Linked DNA regions of Homo sapiens: region 2 is linked to region 1. Evidence: fine-mapped expression QTL. A gene starts in region 1. The other region holds a variant in brackets. All regions are shown on one strand. Distances are from middle to middle.

The links. PIP is the estimated chance that this variant, and not a neighbour inherited with it, causes the effect.
Region 2: its variant is the best candidate, but not a certain one, in a credible set for the expression of LRRC34 in whole blood (TOPMed, PIP 0.70).

The regions. Positions count from the first base shown.
Region 1 is chr3:169,808,127-169,819,440 of GRCh38, forward strand. It overlaps LRRC34 (leucine rich repeat containing 34), which reads right to left and starts at 4,778. Exons shown (of 11, transcript NM_001172779.2): 1 at 4,284-4,778; 2 at 502-619. The coding sequence starts at 4,422. LRRIQ4 (leucine rich repeats and IQ motif containing 4) reads left to right here and starts at 4,744. Exons shown (of 6, transcript NM_001080460.3): 1 at 4,744-4,920. RefSeq lists enhancers at 286-430, 5,943-6,042, 6,333-6,382, a cis regulatory region at 358 and a silencer at 4,153-4,452.
Region 2 is chr3:169,829,774-169,841,087 of GRCh38, forward strand. It overlaps LRRIQ4 (leucine rich repeats and IQ motif containing 4), which reads left to right. Exons shown (of 6, transcript NM_001080460.3): 4 at 719-857; 5 at 3,214-3,410; 6 at 7,706-8,000. The coding sequence ends at 7,858. LRRC31 (leucine rich repeat containing 31) reads right to left here. Exons shown (of 9, transcript NM_024727.4): 9 at 9,399-10,540. The coding sequence ends at 10,209. Among named protein-coding and RNA genes, the nearest start is that of LRRC34, 23 kb to the left of the region's middle. RefSeq lists an enhancer at 6,523-6,602. The variant G/T (reference allele first, on the strand shown) is at 3,997.

The DNA.
Region 1 (11,314 bases):
ACATGGTGAAACCCTGTCTCTACTAAAAAATACAAAAATTAGCCGGGCATGGTGGCGAGCACCTGTAATCCCAGCTGCTCGGGAGGCCAAGGCAGGAGAATTGCTTGAACCCAGGAGGCTGAGTTTGCAGTGAGCCGAGATCACGCCACTGCACTCTAGCCTGGGCGACAGAGGGAGGCACCATCTCAGAAAAAAAAAAAAAAAAAAAAGATTCACCCTGCCCACAAACAAAAAAAAAAGATTCACCCCACCCACAGAAGTTAAAGATCACTCTGGAGCCCAAGCTTGGGTACTCCTGGTCTAGTGCTCTTTCCTGAATACTATACCACCTCTAAGACCTACTAACAGTGTTGCTCGTGTACTTACTTACCTGAATCAAATGGTATGTTCATTTTACCAAGCATTTTCAAATGGCTATAAAATCACTCAATATGTTAGGATTTTCACACACATGAATATAAGCAAACACTATTAATGTAATCAAGTATTTGTCTTTCTTACCCCTTTTTAATTTCTTCATCCACTTCTTGGAGTATATGCAATATAAAAGGATTAATTTTCTGGGATTTTTCCATACACAGATTAGAATAATGTTTCTGGAGACCAGATTCTGGAGATTCTGAAAAATATATGCATCCTCTATCACATATAAATTATTCTAGAAGCTTTAAAAAAAACCATAAAAACTACCTCTTTCAAATATATGAGTTGTATGTGTGTATAGTGGGGGTAGGGAAGAAAAGGAAACAGAATTAAGGTTAGAAAAAGAGAAGAGAAATAAAAATAATGAATGGGAGAGATAATTAAAATGCTGTTTGGAGAACTAGGGCCATTGAAGCACCCATTGAGGCTTGGCAGACACTGGCTCAAGTGAGCACCCTACGTTGGAAGTGACATAAAGGGAGAACTAAGCTCCATTATGTGCCAGGCCTGGTAGCTGAGGAAAATGACTTCCAAAGAAATTGTATATTTTGTCCAAAACCATGCAGCTAATAAAGGCAGAGTGCAGAATCAAACTGATTCCAAAACCTCTTTCCACTGTGCCCTAATGGGTTACAGGGACTCAAGGTTTCTTTTTTTTTTTTTTTTTTTTCAACTCAGTATCTCAGCATCCACGAGAGGAAAAGGTTTCTTAAAATAGCTTCACATAAAAACAATTTTATCTAATAACCTAACTCAAAAGGGATCTGATAAAGCACCTACTCCCACAAGCTTCTTGGATACCCTCTACACCATCCCAAGTTTGAATGTAACTGTCATTTCTTCATACCAAATCGAGGCCTGGCTCACAGAAGCTCTTCTCCTACCCAGCCTTCCATTTCCTCTTTCTAAAGGTGACTTTTCCCTAAGTTCTTAAGAAGACAGACACAAAGCAGGAGTTGAGATCTCCTTTCTGTTATACATGCAGATTTCCTTAATGACCTTGCTGTTCTCAGTAATACCTCAAAAGCATCTTCTGCAAGGCCTACATCTTCTGGGGTGGAAGTTATGCTGTTACTTTTCTTAGAAGTACAGGCCACTGTCTTTGTTTTCTATACATCTACCTTTTGTGGATGTCTTTTAAAAATTTGTGCACAGAGATCTCATTGCTCAACCAGCCTAGCTTTTTAGGAGCTGGCTTCTCTTCTAAGTCTCTACATCTCAGAAATGTTGTTTACTGAGTGTCCTTTGCACTCTGAAGAATAATGAGTTTGCTAAACGGATCTGCAGAACGAGATTTAACATGAGGAACATTACATTTCAGATGAAAGCAAACAAAATTTTCTTATAGTTTTTAATAACCTTTTTAAAAATAAATTTAATATACTTATTCCAGACAATTTGGAAATTTCTTTTTTTTTTTTTTTTGAGATAGGTTCTTGATCTGCCACCCAAGCTGGAGAGCAGGAGCGCAATCTCGGCTCACTGCAACCTCTGCCTCCCGGGTTCAAGCGATTCTCCTGCCTCAGCCTCCCGAGTAGCTGGGACTACAGGCACACACCACCACACCCAGCTATAAAGACGGGGTTTCACCATGTTGGCCAGGCTGGTCTCAAACTCCTGACCTCAAGTGATCAGCCTGCCTCAGCCTCCCAAAGTGCTGGGATTACAGGTGAGCCACTGAGCCCGACCGGAAATTTCTAACATTAAAAAAAAATACATGTTAATCTGCAATCCCACTGCCAAAGAACAACCACAATTGAGGTCTAGGCATACATACTTCCTATAGTTTTTCTTTTATATGCATATTAAGTATTTTTTAAACAAAATTGGAATCTTTGGATATAACTTTATATGCTGTTTTTTAAATTAACATTATATTGTAAGCAGTTTTCCCATGTCACTAGATATTCTCTGAAAAATTTAAATAGCATAATTTCTGTCATGTGGATAGATGTACGTATTAAAAAAAGCTTCACCTATTTTAGAAAATTTTCATGTATTTAAATGATATTGTAGCACAATATTTCCCAAACTGTATTTTGTGGAATATGCATGTTCTACAGGATGATCAAAGGTGTTCCAAATAGAATAGGTCTTATTATCAAGTAAGTCTGAGAAGTACTAAAATAAACAAAACTATACACAGACACAACACTTCTCAGGGCATTTAAAACGTGCACACTCTGCAAACTGTTAAGCTTGAGAATAGGGAGGATAAGAATGCTGCATTTCCGGCCGGGTGCGGTGGCTTACGCCTGTAATCCCAGCACTTTGGGAGGCCGAGGCGAGCGGATCACTTGAGGCCAGGAGTTCGAGACCAGCCTGGCCAATATGGTGAAACCCTATCTCTACCAAAAATACAAAAATTAGCTGGTGTGGTGGCGCATGCCTGTAGTCCCAGCTACTTCGGAGGCTGAGGCGACAGAATCGCTTGAATGCGGGAGGTGGAGGTTACAAGGTTGCAGTGGGCAGAGATCGCGCCACTGCACTCCAGCCTGGGCGACAGAGGAGACTCCATCTCAAAAACAAAACAAAACAAAAACCTCACTTGGAATGCAATCTAGAAAATGCTGCTTTAGCGTCCTCCCCAGGAAACAAAGCAAGTAGATCCCAAATAGAAGTTGGAGCTGGGCTCCCACTGGGCTTCTTTCTTCCCTACTGTCTTCCTTGGTATTAAGAGAAAAATTGCCCTGAGAATCTCCGAGGGCACAGAAATGTGTCAGACTACAATTCATTTTCGCGAAGGCATGAAGGAATCTTAGACTACGAGCTAAATACAGCTAAACAAAGTTATGGAAATATTCTTATTTAACAAGCTAGCCAGAGATTTACAGTATTTAAAAGTTTCTGCTACCCTTCCTTTGATTTAAAATTCACCTACGTATTTTGTATGCCAGGATTTTGTGGCACCAATGAATTTATTTCCTATATTGTATTCATATTAGAAGGAAAATAGCCTTCAAATTGTAAAGCAAAAACTAGGAAATAACCCAGCTACGCAGGAAAATGTCAAGAACCTAACCCAAATTTCATTTTTTCATCCACGCCTCTGGCAGCCACGTTTTAACAATTTCCAGAGAGAGGACTTACTTAGGAGGTAGATCCCTCCAAAACATGCTTTTCTATACTTAGCCAAGCACTGGGAAATCTAAGCGATAAGCATGAGTCAGAACGTGGGTGCCCTATCCAGAATCCGCAGTGTGTACATTTGAACAAGTTGTTATGCCAGCTTAAATTTCCTCTCATGCTAAAGGCAGAGCCTAACACTGCCCATCTCCTGGATGCAGTATTATTAAGCCAGCCTCCGAACACAGTTCCGTATCCACAAACAGACTTTAAAACCAGCATATAAAACGGAAATGGCGGGTAGGGGGTGGCCGTTCAGGGTAGGTGCTTAACTTGCTAATCATGGGCGCAGAAATATTTAAAACGGAGATAGTACAGAGGTGCAAAGTCAGAAACAGTATCAAGACCCTCATGCCCCCCTGTGACCTGCTCTCTGGGACTTTCACAAAAAGGGGGCTGAGAAGAGCCCCCCCGCCACCCCCTCCCGGAGACCCTGAGAGCACGGCGACAGACACCATCTGCACAACCTATCGCGCAAAGGGCGGACCCACGGGAACTCCTCTCCGTGGACTCCTCTCCTGCCCCCGGTCGCAAAGGGCGACCGGGGACTCTTCTCCTGCCCTCGTTTCTGGGCGCCCCAAACCTCTGGCCACAGCTGGGGTTCCCAGGGGCCCCCCTCCCGCCTCGACGCCTTGGGCTGGCGGGCTGCTGGGAGGACTCCTGCCGTGCGACCCCGGCGCCCCTCGCGCGTTTTGTCTGGGCCAGGCCGCGCAGACGTGCTCCCTACTTCTTACCGCGCTGGACCGCCAGGGCCGCGCCCGGAGTACTGGCCTGAGTGGAGGCCCAAGCCGGGGACCTGGCCGGCGCACGGGCGGCCTCCCGGGAGCTCCCCATGCTCCTCTCACCCACTGGCCGCGGCGGCTGCGCTGCCATGGCGACCGCGCGCGCACTTACAGTCCGCCTGCAGCTGTGAGGCGGCTACACGAGCCTCGGCGCCAGCCTGCTTCGAGTCCCGCTGGCTGTGCCTGCCCGGGCCCTGAGGCCTCACTGCTAAGGCAGTGACCGCCTACTCTGTGGAGGTCCTTTGTCACCCTGCCCTGGTTAAAGGCAGCCTGAGGGAGGGCGTCCTGGCTCCTTTGCAGGGAGGAGTTCCCGAGGTTTGAGGGGCTCCGCTGCTGAGCTAGGGCTGGGGCTACAAAGAAGATTATGACAAAGCCCGCTCCTACAAAGTGTGCACCGGCCTGCCGGGCCAGCGAAGAAGCAGAGTAGCATCAGCACATGATAAAGGCGTTGGGCTTTGGGAGCATAAAGGGTTTTGTGCTCCCAAAGGGCGGGGCCACCAGGGAGGGCTTCCTGAAGGAGGTGACATCTGGATGGTCCGAAGGAGGCTGCCAGAGGACAGAATGCTTGGTGCGTTCTGGGCATGCGCAGGTACTTGAATGTACTCAGATCAGTACAGACAGCGGGGAGGCGGGCAGGGCCAGATCCACATGTGTTACTAAAAGGCCAGGGGTTCCGTCTAGATCCAGCTGCTCCTGGCACAGAATGCCAATCACTGAAACAATGAGAATTGCCAGGGAGGAAGGCTTTAATCTGGTGCTGCAGCCGAGGAGATCAGTCTCAAATCTGTCTCCCCAACCAACTAGAATCAAGGGTTTACATAGCAAGAAAGAAATGTGACTACTTGCAGGAAATCAGGAATTAGGGAGGGGTAAGGAAGAGGAGTTGGTCAACAGGAATCAGGTGGTCGTTTAGGGAATCATGGTGGGTGAGGGATCTGGTGTCTCATTGTCCAGATGTGACGATCTGGTAAGTTTCATTTCCTTGATACTGAAATGGTAATAGTTTCCTTATCCCCCTTGCAGGGCATGCGATGGTGAGGCAGGAAAATAGGGTCTGGAGGTAGGGAACATAAGGCCGATTCGCACTTCGGCTATAACAGGAAATATCCTCTCCATAGGGTGTACACCATAAACGACTTTGTAACCTTACTTCATCCTCTTCATTTACACAGGGCGTACTCTAAGTAACCAATGGAATCCTCTAAGGGATATTTAAACTCCCAAAAAATTTGTAACGGGGTCTTTGAGCCCCTGTGCTCGGCCCACTCCCACACTGTGGAGTATACTTTCATTTTCAGTAAATCCCTTCATTCCTTCCTTGCTTTGTGCGTTTTGTCCAATTCTTTGTTCAAGACGCCAAGAACCTGGACACCTTCTACCGGTAACAATGGGGGTGTGGCTTGCTTCTTTGGTGCTCCGCTGCTCAAACCTCTAGGGGGAGCATGCAGACGGGCAGGTTGTGGGGCACGTGGGCTCCGAACTCACCGCAGCGTCTAGGGGTGAATGCTTACAGCTGCTGAAGCAAAGCCCCAGTAGGCGTGTGTTACAGGGTGCTCTTTCAGTTTTGCTGTGTATAGGCGGCTTGCGTCAATCAGCTCAGTTAGACCCTCTGTCTTACCGCAAGGACAGAGGGCTTTCTGTTTCCTGGGGTTCTGGCCTTGGTGTACCGGAAAAATCGGATCACACAGTGGGCTTGGAGAATGAGTGCAAGGTTTTATTGATTGGTGGAAGTGGCTCTCAACAGATGGATGGGGAGCCAGAAAGGGAATGGAGTGGAAAGGTGGTTTTCCCCTGGAGTCCGGCCGCTCAGCAGCCAGACTCTCCACTGACTGCCCTGGCCAAATTCCCCTCGGTCTACACATCGTGCTGCTTGTCGGTGACCTGGCAGCGTCCGCTGGTGCCTGTCGGTGTGCTCTTCTGCTCCTCTGTTCCTCTCAATGTCCAGCCACCTGTGTGCTCCTCCGCCGGTGTGTTCCTCTCAACATCCAGCCGCTTGTGTCTGTGCCTACTAGGGTCTTGGGGTGTTTGTTTGTTTGTTTGTTTTTTGAGACAGAGTCTCGCTCTGTGGTCCAGGCTGAAGTGCAGTGGCCTGATCTTGGCTCACTGCAACCTCTGCCTCCGAGCTTCAAGCAATTCTCCCACCTCAGCCTCCAGAATAGCCGGGATTACAGGCGCCCCCCACTACGCCCAGCTAATTTTGTATTTTTAGTAGAGACAGGGTTTCACCATGTTGGCCAGGCTGGTCTCAAACTCCTGACCTCAAGTGATCTACCTGCCTCTGCCGCCCAAAGTGCTGGGATTACAGGCGTGAGGCACTATGCCTGGCCCTTTAATCCATTTTGATTTGATTTTTGTATGTGGCAAGAGATAGGGGTGTAGTTTCATTCTTCTGCATATGGATATCCAGTTTTCCCAGAACCGTTATTGAAGAAACTATCTTTTCCCCAATATATGTTACTGATACCTTTGTCAAAAACGAGTTCACTGTAGATGATGGATTTATATCTGGGTTCTCTATTCTGTTCCATTGGTCTATGTATCTATTTTTATGCCAGTACCATGCTAGTTTGGCTACTTTAGCTCTGCAATATAATTTTAATTTAGGTAATGTGATTCCTCCAGTTTTGTTCTTTTTGCTCAGGTTAGCTTTGGCTATGCTGGATCTTTTGTGGTTTCATACAAATTTTAGGATTATTTTTTCTATTTCTGTGAAGAAGGTCTTTGGTATTTTGATAGGAATTGTATATAATCTGTAAATTGCTTTGGATAAAATGGACATTTTAACAATAATTATTATTCTAATCCAAGAACATAAAATATCTTTCCTTTTTTTGTGTGTGTGTCCTCTTTAATTTCTTACTTCAATGTTTTATAGTTTTCATTGTAGAGATCTTTTACTTCTTTGGTTGAGTTTGTTCTTAGGTATTTTATTTTATTTGTAGCTACTGTAAATGGGATTATTTTCTTACTTTTTCTGATTGTTTGCTGTTGGTATATAAAAATGCTACTGAGTTTTATATGTTGATTTTGTATCCTACAACTTTATTGAATTTGTTTATCCATTCTAATAATTTTTTTTGGTGGAGTCTTAAGGATTTTCCAAATATAAGATTATATCATCTGCAAACAAGGATAATTTGGGTTCTTCTTTTCCAGTTTGGATGCTCTTTATATCTTTCTCTTCTCTAATTGCTCTAGCTAAGACTTCCAGTGCTACACTGAATAATAGTGGTTAAAGTGGGCATCCTTATATTGTTCCAGATCTTAGAGAAAAGGTTTTCAGTATTTCCTATTCAGTATGATACTACCTACGGGCCTGTCAAATATGGTTTTTATCGTGTTGAGGTATCTTCCATCTACTCCCAGTTTATTGAGGGCTTTTATCATGAAGTGATGTTGAATTTTATCACATGCTTTTTCAGCATCAATTAAAATGATCATATGGTTTTTGTCCTTCATTCTGTTGATAGGTTGTATCACATTGATTGATTTGTGTATGTTGAGCCATCCTTGCATTCCTAAGATGAATGCCACTTGGTCATGATGAATGATTTTTTTAATGTGTTGTTGAATTCAGTTTGCTAGCATTTTCGTTGAGGATCTTCGCTGAGAAGATCCATCAGGGACATTGCCCTACAGTTTTCTGTTTTTTGGTTTGCTTGTTTGTTTGTTTTGGTGTGTCTTTGGTTTTGGTGTCAGGGTAATACTGGCCTCATAGAACGAATTTGGAAGTAGTTTTTCCTCCTCTATTTTTCAGAACAGCTTGAGTAGGATTGGTATTAGTTCTTCTTTAAATGTTTGATAAAAATCAGCATTGAAGCCATTGGGTCCCAGGTTTTTCTTTGCTAGGAGACTTTTTATTATGACTTTGATCTTTTTACTTGCTATTGGTCTATTGAGGTTTCAGATTTCTTCATGGTTCAATCTTGGTAAATGGTATATATCTAGGAATTTATCCATTTCTTCTAGGTTTCCCAATGTATTAACATATAGTTGATCCTTGGAATTTCTACTGTATCAGTTGTAATATCTCCTTTTTCATCTCTGATTTTATTTATTGGATCTTCTCTCTTTTTCTCTTAATCTGGCTAAAAGTTTATTGATTTTATTCATCTTTTCAAAAAACCCAACTTTTCATTTTATTAATTTTTTTGCATTGTTCTTTATTTTAATTTCATTTATTTCTGCTCTGATTTTTGTGATTTCTTTTCTTCTACTTTTTTTTTTTTTTTTGACAGAGTTTTGCTCTGTTGCCCAGGATGGAGTACAGTGGCATGATCTCAGCTCACTGCAACCTCTGCCTCCTGGGTTCAAGTGATTCTTTTGCCTCAGCCTCCTGAGTAGCTGGGATTACAGGCACACACCACAATGCTTGGCTAATTTTTATATTTTTAGTAGAGACAGGGTTTCACCATGTTGGCCAAGCTGGTCTTGAACTCCCAACCTCAGGTGATCCACTTGCCTCAGCCTCCCAAAGTGCTGGGATTACAGGCGTGAGCTATCACTCCCAGCCTTCTACTAACTTTGAGTTTGGTTTTTTACTTTTCTAGTTCTTTAAGATGCATCATTACATTGTTTATTTGAAGTTTTCTGCTTTTTTGATGTAGGCACTTATTGCTATAAACATGCCTGTTAGTACTGCTTTCACTGTATCCCATAGGTTTTGTTATGTTGTGTTTCCATTTTAATTTGTTTCAATAAATTTTTTAATTTTCTTAATTTTTTCATTGACCCACTGGTCATTCAGGAGCATGTTGTTTAATTTCCACGTGTTTGTACAATTCCCAAATTTCCTCTTGTTATTGCTTTCTAGTTTTATTCCATTGTGCTCAGAGAAGATACTTAATATGATTTTGATATTTTTGAAAATTTTTAAGACTTGTTTTGTGACCTAAAATATGTCTATCCTTGAGAAGATCCATGTGCTGAGGAAAAGAATGTGTATTCTGCAGCTGTTGGATGAAATGTTCTGTAAATATCTAGGTACATTTGGTCTATAGTGCAGATTAAGTCCAATGCTGCTTTGTTGGTTTTCTGTCTTGATCTCTCCAATGCTGAAAGTATCCAATGCTGAAATCAACAGCCATTATTGTACTGGAGTCTATTTCTTTCTTTATCTCTAGTAATATTTGCTTTACATAACTAGGTGATCCAGTGTTGGGTGCATGTATATTTATGATCGTTATATCCTCTTGCTGAATGAACCCCTTTATCATTATATAATGACCTTTTTTGTCTTTTTTTATAGCTTTTGTCTCGAAATCTATTTTGTCTGATATATGTATAGCTACTCCTGCTCTTTTTTGTTTTCCATTTGCATAGAATATCTTTTCCCATTCCTTTATTTTCAGCTTATGTGTGTCTTTATAGGTGAAATGTATTTCTTGTGGGCCACAGATCGATCATTGGGTCTTGTTTTTTAAAATCCATTTAGCACCTCAAGAGCAATTCCTCAGAGCCCAGCACAGCATCAAGATTTGCCCAGGAATTGCAGTCCTTGTGACCTAGACTGCCTTTCAAGTTTATTTAGAACCCCCAGAGCACTTTATCCCACAGTGGTGGGGCTAGCCAGAACTCACGTTCCACCCACTGGCATGGACAATTCCCCTCTGGCTAGGGCTGGTCTAAATGCTCCCTCCATGAGCACCACCTGAATTCTACCCGATGTTGCTTTCCACTGTGACAGGCAGCACTGAAGTCCATTCCAAAGCCCCACAGTCACTTTCCTCTCCCTCCCCGAAGCACACTTATTCTCTCTCTGTGCCACATGGCTGCTCTGGGGGTTGGAGGAGGGATGGTTCTGACTATCCAGGACTGTCTTTCCTACCTTCTTCAGTGCCTCTTTCTTTGCTATGATGTTAAAACCAGGGACTGTGATTGCAAACCTGATCTTTCGTTCTTATGAAGATGATTTCTTGTGTGAATAGTTGTTCAATTTGGTGTTCCTGTTGGAGGGGATGATTGCTAGAGGGTTCTATTCAGCCATCTTGCTCTGCCTCCAGGAATTTTTTTTTTAACAAGATGTATTTGTACAGAATTCTCTCAGCTATGACTCCCTGTTGAAGAATTTTCTTTCTGGTATAGGGAAGGCATGTTTCACATGGAAGGTTTTATTTCCTGTTTTCAAGGCGAGAAAGGGAAGATTAGAATACACTTATTGCATCTGCTATTTTTCAAGTGTCTTTAGCTTAAAGTAATCCTCATACCAAAGTGGCATATTTTGGAGTGGCATATTCTGCCACTCTTTATTACCATTACATGAATATCCAGTCTGAAGTCAATTAAGGTTACTTTTAGTTTGTTTGTGATTCACCAGTTTTTAGAAGGAGAAGTTCTGCTGAGTGAAGTTTTAAGCAAAATCTTGAAATTCTTTTAACTAGAAATGGGTTTTTATGCTAACAGAGAGAGTCACACACCATATTAACCTCAGGAACCTAGTCTTACCTATCTAGTTTGTGCATAGACAGACTTGGAAACAAAAGCATCAACACTCACTGTAAATTTGAGAGGGCTGATTAGTTTCTTAAATGATTTTCTCAGGGGTTAGAGTTACACAAAGAAAGCTAATTGTTAAACTATCCAAATCTTGGCTCCTTCAAATGAAGATGTAACAATTATTTAATTTAAAAATCACCCGACCATAATATTGGATTGTAATAATAAGTAAATTTGATCACATTTGTGTAGCAATCCCTAGAGAAAAAATGGCCAATAAAGACCAAATCTTCCCCTTTCTCAATTACTGTGGCAGAATTACTGGCAAAGCTATTGCAAATCTGGGTTTTACAATCTCCTTTTATTAAATCCACAAATGAACGTGAAATATGGGTGTATATATATAGCTTTCAGAGGGCCGTCAAATTGATGGGGTATATGATTAAGGTGAGATAACATACACACACAATCAGATATTCTAAGCAGGTCTTATTATGGAGAAAGATGAATGCTAAGAGAAATAAGTTATTTCATGTGTCTGGAAGCCC
Region 2 (11,314 bases), 22 kb after region 1:
TATAGGCATAAACCACCGTGTCTGACCTGCTGCACTCTTAATGATGATAAAGTAGGCGTGGGCCACCACATAACCCCAGTCATGCAATGCCATGCACAGCATAGGTAGTTCTCACTATGACACAGGGTGTCTCTTCCTAATTCTCCATTCCTTTGCCCTGTGTTCATAGAACACCTTTCATCAGCTTTTCCTTTGTACCTGTCATGCCACAATCTTAGGGTGAAGTACAAACATTAGATTTTTGCCCAGTGAAGTTGAAAATAGTTATTTTGAATACATTCAAATCCATTCCCTGTGCATTTTGGCTACTTTCACTGAGGCAATATTGGGTTGATAGTTGAGGCAATTATCATTCTGTAGCAACTGCCACAGACAATTAGCTATTAAAAAAGGAGTTAATGATAAATGTAGTTAAATTATTCAAATTATTTTTCCATAAAGTTCTGGTGAAACAAATAAGCACTAGATGTCTGTAGTCTCTTTTCCCTGCATAAATGGAAACTAAGTCTAATGGATTTACTCAAAAATAATTTTGGGTCTTGATGATGGTCCTTTAGACATGCTTTTTCCCTTAACTCAATGCGTAATTTCCCCACTGAAAGTGAAAAAAAAAAAAAAAAAAAAAAAAAAAAAAAATGCATGAGCACCCACAGGTGATTCTGGTTATTATAATTAATTAATCAAGGTATATTATTATGGTACACTCATGTTATTTCAGAGTCTCAAAGAGCTATATATAGAGAACAATCATCTGGAGTACCTGCCCGTATCCTTGGGGTCAATGCCTAACCTAGAAGTTCTTGATTGCCGGCACAATTTGCTTAAGCAACTTCCAGATGCCATTTGCCAAGCACAAGGTGAGGAAACTTAGTAGATTCACAGCCTAGCAGAGTTTGTGGCCAGCATTTCCTATGGCAAATGGCTTCCTTGCTTTGCTAAAGACCTATCTCAGTGTTCAGAGAACTGAGTCTATCCCATTACTTCCTTGCAGGGCTCACTTAGCGACATGGGGGAGGCCAGGTGTCCTGATTAGTATAGCTAAGAGTCTTGCAAAGGCAGTTAAGTCATTTATTAAAATGGAAAGGTAAATAGCGACTGCTAAGAAAATTAGCATTTACCCATACATTTATTACACTACCAACAATAATTTACTGTACACTTACTACATGCCAGAATTTGGAGTTGGGATCCTGCAGTAAATTTCATCTAGGTCACGGAGTCACTTGAGTAAAAGAAAAAGTATTGGCCCAGAGTGGTGAAATTAGCAGGAGACTTTCTTGGAGCTACATAATTGACCTGGAAAACTATATATGATTCCTACTTAAATAGCCAAACATTTTCCACTACACTAAGCCATTCTTTGTCTGTACATTCATCCATCCACTTAATATGCTTTTGCTGAGCACCCACTGGGACCAGATTTTAAATGTTTCTTTTTTTTTTTCTGAATCCTAGGCTTATGCACATGTTTTCAAACTATGGCTATTCTTTTTTTTTTTTTTTTTTTTTTTTTTTTTTAAGACAGAGTCTCGCTCTGTCGCTCAGGCTGGAGTGCAGTGGCGTGATCTCGGCTCCCTGCAAACTCTGCCTCCCGGGTTCACGCTATTCTTCTGCCTCAGCCTCCTGAGTAGCTGGAACTACAGGCGCCCGCCACCACGCCCGGCTAATTTTTTTTTTTTTTTTTTTTTTTTTTTTTTTTTTTTTTTTTTTAGTAGAGACGGGGTTTCACTGTGTTAGCCAGGATGGTCTTGATCTCCTGACCTCGTGATCTGCCCACCTTGGCCTCCCAAAGTGCTGGAATTACAGGCGTGAGCCACCGTGCCTGGCCCAAACTATAGTTATTCTTTAATGAAAAAAGAATGGAGAGAGTGGAAGCTGATGCCTACTCATAAGGCATTCAAAAACTGGGGGCAAGGCCAGGCGCGGTGCTCACGCCTGTAATCTCATCACTTTGGGACGCCGAGGAGGGCAGATCACCTGAGGTTAGGAGTTCAAACCAGCCTGGCCAACATGGTGAAAACCCATCTCTACTAAAAATACAAAATTAGCTGAGTGTGATGGCACGTGCCTGTAATCCCAGCTACTTGGGAGGCTGAGGCAGGAGAATTGCTTGAATCCGGGAGGCAGAGGTTGCAGTGAGCTGAGATTGCACCACTGCACTCTAGCCTGTTAACAGGGCAAGACTCCGTTTTAATAAAAGTTAAAAAATTTAAAAAAAAAAAGAAAAAAAAAATGGAGACAAGGGGTTGTATGCAGTAATCCTTAGTAATGCTCCTGACCATAAATTTTTATCCTGTCCTTGGTCCCTGGAGGAGTGAAATATTCTCAAAATTTTTCAGTGTTTTCTATTTTTCTGTCTCTAATATTTATGGACACTGGCTTCAACAACTTTGAATTGTTATAAAGAAGTTGTAGGCCAGGCGCGGTGGCTCACGCCTGTAATTCCAGCACTTTGGGAGGCCAAGGCAGGCAGATCATGAGGTCAGGAGTTCGAAACCAGCCTAGCCAATACAGTGAAACCCCATCTCTACTAAAAATACAAAAATTAGCTGGGCTTGGTGGTGGGTGCCTGTAATCCCAGCTACTCAGGAGAATGAGGCAGGAGAATCACTTGAACCCGGGAGGCGGAGGCTGCACTGAACCGAGATGGCGCCACTGCACTCCAGCCTCGGTGACAGAGCTAGACTCTGTCTCAAAAAAAAAAAAAAAATAGCCAAGTGTGGTGGCGTGCACCTGAAATCCCAGCTACTTGGGAGGCTGAGGCACTTGAATCGCTTCAACCTGGGAGGCAGAGGTTGTAGTGAGCTCAGATCATGCCACTGTACTCCAGCCTGGGCAACAAAGTGAGACTCTGTCTCAAAAAAAAAAAAAAAAAAAAAAATCAATAGTCTGCTGACCTTAGGAACAGCAGGGTCTGAGAGTGATTTTTCCCAGTGGGCTGTCAGTTTCAGCTAAAAACTGTTGCTCTAAACAAACAAAACATTTGGAATATCTGGAGACTGAATTCTGTTCTCTTCATTTTGAGAAGGAGCAAACATAGAGCTAGAACTTTTATTAGATGGTAGAAAAAGTTTTGTCGGGTCTTGTGCATCCTTCCTCTCATTCCCTTTGCAAATGCAGAATTGGATCCCTCACCTATGTGGACAGGATTAGGTGACAAGTTAATATTGTTTCTTCTAAGATTGAACCACCATTACGAAAAAATCTTTTCAGCTTTGAAAGAATTACGGCTGGAGGACAACTTGCTCACCCATCTTCCAGAGAATTTGGATTCCCTAGTGAATCTTAAGGTTCTGACACTGATGGACAATCCCATGGAAGAACCCCCAAAAGAAGTGTGTGCTGAAGGCAATGAGGCCATATGGAAATACCTCAAGGAAAACAGAAACAGGAATATAATGGCAACAAAGGTAAAATCAGCCCAGATTCTTGATAACAGTTGCTTTAGAGGGAGTCTAATGGTAAACACAGTACAGATTATCCTACGGAGCAACTCCTTACACCCTTGTCCTGCTTCTGAAAAGAGAAGTTACTTGGTAACTTTTATGTCCCCAGGGCTAAGTAAGAAGATTTTTAAATGTCAGCCCTAGCATTTTTGTCTTTTATGTCCCTTATTTCTTTGTCCAATAAGAAGCCAACAAATAGGCAAAGGAAACCAAAACTTCAACATTTCCAACAATCTAAAATTCGTGGACTATTTCATTGGAATGAAAAAAGTTTGTATTAACAAAAGTAGTAAAATAAGTTTAGAAAATTAGAAATGAAAGCGTTTATAGATGAGAGGCTGAGCCCAGGGTTCTGAGCTGCCATTAATAAGGATCAAAAGGCTGAGATCCTTGTAATTCTGCTCTAGCCCTTTGAGCCCATGGAGATGTAGGACAGGTCTGGAATGTGTCCACTTCAGCCAGTGTTCTTTATTCTCCAACTGGCCCAAGTCCCCATCATCTCACAGCCGGATAACTACATAAGCCCTCTGACTACTGTCCCTGCTTGCAT[G/T]CCAGCCCCCCACAACATACCTTCTGCTCAGCAGTTGCACTGATGCTCCACTGAAATTGGCAATCCTCCATTACACTCAGAGTAAGAGTCAAGTCTTCAGTCCGTAAAACCCCCTCTCAATAGCCCTCAACCCTATCAGACCTAATGTCCTCCCTTTTATGATAAATCTTTTGTAATACCTCTTTTACTATTCCAAAATAAATTCAGAGATAATAAAAACATACAAAAGGACATAATTTTAATCAAAATAACGCCTGAGTTACAATTTAAAGGAGAAAGAAAAGTAATTTATATACAAATATATATTTCAGGCCTGGCGCGGTGGCTCTCGCCTGTAATCCCAGCACTTTGGGAGGCTGAGGCGGGTGGATCACTTGAGGTCAGGAGTTCGAGATCAGCCTGACCAACATGGTGAAACCCTGTCTCTACTAAAAATACAAAAATTAGCTGGGCATGGTGGTGCGTGCCTGTAATCCCAGCTACTCTGGAGGCTGAGGCAGGAGAATCGCTTGAACCCAGGAGGCGGGGGTTACAGTGAGCCTAGATTGTGCCACTGCACTCCAGCCTGGGCAACAGCTGTCTCCAAAAATAAATGAATAAATTATTTCAGTGTGTATATGCTCAGGATGGATTACACTTGAAAGAATGAAAGTTGTGGTTCTTAATTGAATACTTCCTAAAAGCATTTTGAAAAACTGTGCACCCTCTTGCACGTTCTTAAAATGATATTTAACATTGTTGGCCACAAGTTTAAATCATTGCAAAGGATGTAATTTCCAGTGAATTTTAAATGTTGACATTTTAAAATAGAGCTGTTAGATCAATATTTTAAATGTATCCAGTGGAAACTGAATATCATTATGATTTGTCAACACCAATTTACAAATACTCAAACAAGTTATTATTTTATAGGCAGAATTTTTATATCATATTCCTTTTCTTCTTAAACATGTACTTCCATTCTACTTTCCCCTCAAAATTGATCCTAAGGTTTTATGTATACACATATAAGTCTTTCATAGATTGCTCTTTTGTACTTCTAGGTGACAAAAATATTTATATAAATTAAATTTTAAAAATTTAAAAATGTATATACATTACAACTATTAGTATAAAATCACCTAAAACAACATAAAATTTCTTACAAATTTTAATAATTATTAGACATATAGGATTTTTTAGAACAGTGTACCAAAATGAGAGGGTTTTTTTAGCATAGTTTATATATTCATGCATAAATATTGATGATTATTAGAATAACACAGGGTTGATTATAGATTCTACTCCTGTTTCTCATTTTACAGATGAAAGCCTTGAGAAACCTTGTTCACGTAGATGAGTTAAAGAGAACAGAAGAAGCTTTTTTTGCCTGTAATGTTTTATTTTAAAAAAACAATGATTCATGCATCTCTGAGCTTCTTCCAGATTTATATCCCCCAAATCGATAGCAGGTCTTAGCTGACATGTCAACTAGGCTTCCCTTATTTTTCTTGAAGGTAGAATTAGAAACCACCTGTCTTGCAAAAGGATTGGTTAACCAGTCCCTAGAGTCATTCATTTTCTCATCAACACTTGTACTTTGAATTGTCTTTTTCTGTGTGTGTGTGTGTGTGTGTGTGTGTGTGTCCTAATGATTTTTGGAGTCCAGGGCAATGCACCATAGTAAGATTCAGGTGGGTGCAAGCTGTGCCCTTCCTCTGTGGAGCATCACAGGGGCAACTGGGATGGGGGATCTGCAGTTATGTTCTCGGGATGATTTTAGGAAGGGGTACATATGGAAGCTGGAGCTCAGGAAATGGACTGTCTTCAACCTATCCATGCCTGCACACTGTTGGAAAGGCTTTGTAGACCAGGGTATAGGCCACACAATTGAAGACTGCTTAACCTTAAGTCAACAAAAAGCCCCATAAATTTCCAAAATGCCTCTAGAGAGCAGTGCTGTTCCCTGGATCCCGATTGGTCTGCTGTTTTCACTCCCCATCTCCTCTTTCCTACTCTCACTGGACTTCAGTCACAAGCAGATCTGGTGTTCCTCCAAGGACCAAGCATGTTCCTGGCTCAGGGCCTTAACACTGGCTCTTCCTGTGCCCAGAGATGCTTTCCCCAGATATGAGCAAGATTCTGGCCCTCACTTCATTCCATCTCTGCTTAAACATTCTCTTATCAGAGAGCCCTTCCTTGATCCACCTTATATAAAACAGCATACCCCCAGCCACCTCTTTCATTTGTTCATTCATTCAACAAACATTTATTGAGCTTCTACTATGCACCAGACACTGTTCTAAGCATTGAGATACATCAGTGAACAAAACAAATATTTATGTCCTCACAGTACTTAAAATCTAGTAGGAGGGAAATAAAAGCATGAAATAGAAAACATAAAATGAAATACTATGTTAGAGAGTGCTACTGTTTAAAAAAAAAAAAAAGTTAGCCTAAGGGGAACTGAAATTGCCAGTAGTGTGTGGAGGTGGAGAAGTGGTTGATTTAAATAAGATTGTCAGAGTAGGCCTCACTGAAAAAATGGCAGTCTTAGCTTAGGCTGCCACAACAAAATACCATAGAACAGGCGGCTTAAACAATGGAAATGTATTTTCTCACAGTTCTGGAGGCTGGAAGTCTAAGGTCAGAGTATCAGCATGATTGGAGTCTGGTGAAGGCCCTCTTCCTGGCCTGTAGAAGCTGACTTCTCCCTGTGTCTTCATATAACAGAAAGAGAGAGAGAGAGAGAGAGAGATTGCACTAGAGAGTGCTAACTCTCTGATATCTCTCCTTATAAGGCCACTAATCTCATCATGAGGACCCTGCTGTTATGACCTCATATAAATCTAATCATCTCCTCAAAGCCCCTTCTCCAAATTCATTCACACTGGGGATTAGGACTTCAGCATATGAATTTGGGGCAACACAGTTCAGTCCGTAGCAATGACAATCAAGCAAATCCTTGAAGCAGCGGAGGGGTGAGCCATCTGAATACTGAGAAGAGTTCCAGGCAAAGAAAGCAGCGAATATACAGGCCCTGAGTCACAACTGTGCCTATGTGTCTGAGCAGGGAGGAGGCCCGCATGGCTGGAGCAGAGTGAGCCAGGGAAAAGGGAGTTAAGAGGTTAGAGGGGTCAGGATTGGGGAGGCAGATCAGAGAGGGCCTTGTAAGCCATATAAGGACTTTGGCTTCTATTCAGAGAGAAATGGGGAGCCACTGGACAAGTCTGCTGCTAGAGGAAGGGTGTTGCTGGGTAGGTAGGAGGGAATAGGATCCAGGGAACAAGTGAGGGCTGGCTTTAGGCAGGAGCACAGACAGCCCAGTAAGGAGCAGGAAGGCAGGGCGTAGGCACTCAGATCCCCTCACCATGTGCGGTCACTCTCCATAGCACTCATCACCGTCTGACAAATTGAACATTCATGTGTTTATTTTGTACTGTCTCTTCCTCACTGGAATGTGAGCTCCATAAAGTTGAGACAGTTATTTCTCTGCTGTTGCCCAAAAGTCTAGAACAGGCACTGGCACATAAAAACAATAAATGCATTTTTTAAAAAATTTGTCTGAATGCCTAGCCAATTGAGAAAGATAGAAAATAAAATTTAGAGTTCTAATCACATCCCATTCTCTCCACGTCTTCAAGACCATGTATCAGAATAAAGAGATTTAACAATTTCCAGTTCATTGTGATACCAGCCGATGCTGAATTTGGGTTTATCTTGTTTTCAGATTCAGGCATGGTGGCGTGGAACAATGGTACAGAGAGGATTTGGGAAATTCGGTGAACTACTAAAACCACAAAAGAAAGGAAAGACCTCTCCAAAAGATAAGAAAGGAAAGAAGGATGTAAAAGGAAAACCAGGAAAGGGAAAAAAGAAATAATCCTGTAAATTGATAAATTGGGGTAATGGACCTTGATAGATTAAGAAGACAAAATATCTAGGAATTAGATGCCTACTACATTAAAATTATTCATAAAATTACACTTATGTGTAAAAATAAATGATTCTTACTTTTACTGAAATATTTATGGATAAAATGATATAACACCTTGGAATTGCTTCTAAATAATATGGGAGGGGGAGGGGAAAGTGGGTAGGAATACAAGTGAAACAAGATTGGCCGTACATTGATAACTAGAATAAGGTGATGAGTACGCAGGGGTTCTTTATACTATTTGCCTACTTTTATTTATTTATTTATTTTAAGACAGGATCTCACTCTGTTGCCCAGGCTGGCATGCAGTGGTGCAATATTGGGTCACTGCAACCTCCATTTCCCAGGTTCCAACAATTCTCATGCCTCAGCCTCCCGAGTAGCTAGGACTACAGGTGCATGCCACCATGCCTGGCTAACTTTTATATTTTTTTTGTAGAGATGGGGTTTCACCATGTTGGCCAGGCTGGTCTCGAACTCCTGACCTCAAGTGATCTGCCCGCCTTGGCCTCCCAAAGTGCTGGGATTACATGCGTGAGCCACTGCACCCAGCCAGCCTACTTTTAAAACTTTTACTGTGAAATAATTATAGATTCACAGGAAGTTCCAAAGAAATGTTCAGGTAGGTCCAGGCACTACTCAGCCTCCCTCAACGCTGACCTCTTTTATAACTATAGCACAATAACAAAACCAGAAGATTGACATTGGTACAATCAACAGTGCACTCATTTGTGTGTGTGTGTTTGTGTAATCCTATGCAATTTTGTCACATATAGTTTTGTGCAGCCACCATCACAGTCAAGACATAGAATTGTTCCATTGCCACAAGTTTCCCTTGTGCTATTCCTCTGTAGCCATACCTACTGCCTACTCCTCTCCCAATGCCTAACTTGTTCTCCAGATCCATAATTGTGTCATTTTAGGAATGTCACATAAATGGAAACACACAGTTTGTAACTGGGATTGGCTTTTTTATTCAGCCTAATCCACCTGAAGTCTATCGAACTGGGGGCATGTATCAGTGGTTTGTTCCTTTCTGTTGCTGAGGAGTATTCCATAGTCCCACAGTTTGTTTAACCTTTCACTCATTGTTTCTAGTTTTTTTGCTATTGTGAACAAAGCTGCTATGAACATTCATGCATAGGTTTTTGCATATGCATAGATACTCATGGAATGCATGGGAATGCTCATGATATTCATGGTATTCTTTTATATCATGTAACCCAAAATATCCCCTTTACATCATTCAAAACCTCCTCATCCTGAAAACCTTTTAATTTGGAGTAGTGTTGATTTTACATTTGCATGTCTTTCAGGCAGTGATTGCAATACTAATTATTAGTGTAGTAGAAGAAAGCAAAACATAATTTGACTAGAGCTTGTCAGAATAGAAATGTGCAGACAAACATCTCTGCCATGCAATGACTTTCATGCTCTAGCAAAAGAAAATCAAAAATTTCAAAAATAGTTTAGAGCAACACAAAACTGTCATTAACGAATTAAATTAGTTTTATGAAGCAAATTCCATTTCAAAGAAATGCCTGGAGGCAATATGTTAACAATTTTTTAAACAATAAAAGGTTTTAATTTATTCTAACAAGATATGTTTTTCATACTGAGTTTTAGATTTTTAATCACTTTTTACTAAGATTTATATGTCAGTGACTATCATTACTGTTCATGGTTTATATCTGAGATAAAAGGCACCAGAATATAAAATAATAAACCATAGAAAGGTACACTTTCTGATAAAAACCTACATAGACTACATTAAGATACATATAGTAATAGTAATGATACATGAAACTATTAGACAGCTAGTGCCTTTCACATTAGAATTACACACACACACACATACCCCTTTATATTTAGAACATTTAACTTGTAGGAAAAGAAGAGGCAAAACATTTCTGGGCAAGAGGAAAGCAGTTGCAGTACCAAAATCTAAACACTTTTGGCAAGGCTTCTAAACAGCAAATGAACTAATTATATATCCAAAACAAATCCATTGAAAAATGCCATTTTTGTTTCATAGACAGAGAATAATGGCATGCTCATATTAGATATTATATATATATTTACATATATATGTGTATTATATATGTATATTATATATATGTGTATATATGTATATTACATATATATATGTAATATATATATATATTTACAAAGCTCTTGTAATATAAGTCCCATTAAATGGCCCAGAAGTTGAAATTCAGTTCATGACTCTGGAATTCGTTCATGTTCTTTTCCTTTGGAGAATGGTTTGTAGCTTAGTAGGACATGGGAAATCAGTTTACTGAAACCCACCATGGTCAAAGTGAATGCTTCTTTTTTTATCTTGGTCAAAGCATTCTAGTTCTTCCTCCTGTGAAGCTGGGAGAATCCATCTTTTCATTCCTATCTCAGTGATCTGAGGAAGCTTGGTCACAGCATATAACAAGTGTCTAAACCATTGTCCACAATCTCGAAAATTTGATGGTCGAAGGCTAATATCCAGCTCGATTAGCTCTTTGAGGAACCGCACGTTTTGGCAGAACATGGTCCACCCCGCATCACAGATGCTGTCATTGTAGCTCAGGTCCAGCTTTTGCAGTTTGGCCAGATGACCCGTCTGTATGACCGATGCTGGAAAACAGAATCACTCTAAATGCTAACATACAAGAATACTGTCTGCCATGGCTATTCCCATTTCCCATAACACTATCTCCAGGAATAGTAATGACAAGATTAGTAATTAGTAATGATTTGTTATTAGCAGCTTTATTCAGGACATCTGAAATTAGTAACAGATTTCCTCTCTGTACATCCCATCTACAGCTTTTTTTATTTCTTTTTCCAAATCTCAACCCAATAATTTTTTTTTGTCAAGTTCCTGCTCTCTGTTCCACTGAAGTCCGAGCTCTTCCTACAGATTTTCTCTAATTAAATGTAAAGAGTGATGGCTCATTGGCTTTAACTAAGGACCATTTGTAAATAATCATCTTGCTGCTTTAATTGTTCATTTTCATTCATTCAGTACTTCTTCATCCAGCAATTATTTAAATGAGCATTTTCCATATGCAGAACATACCTGGATAATTTCCAATTCACCTTAGAGACCCCAATACATGTGACAGTTTTCCTTTTGAATAGAACATATCAGTACTACCTACAATGGCACTTAAAAATGATGACTAATGTACAATCTGAGCTATTTGATCAGAAAATAAATAAGTTAATGATGAAATAAAGACTTCTGTAAGAGGAGGCAGGAGAGATAACCACGGAAAATGGGACATGCTTCCCTTTTCAACCAAACCCAGGAATGGATTGCAGAGATCAGGTGGGTTGTATAGAATCTCAGCGTTGCAAGGGATCTTGGAAGTCTCCTTATCCAACCTCCTAATCAATAATCAGAGA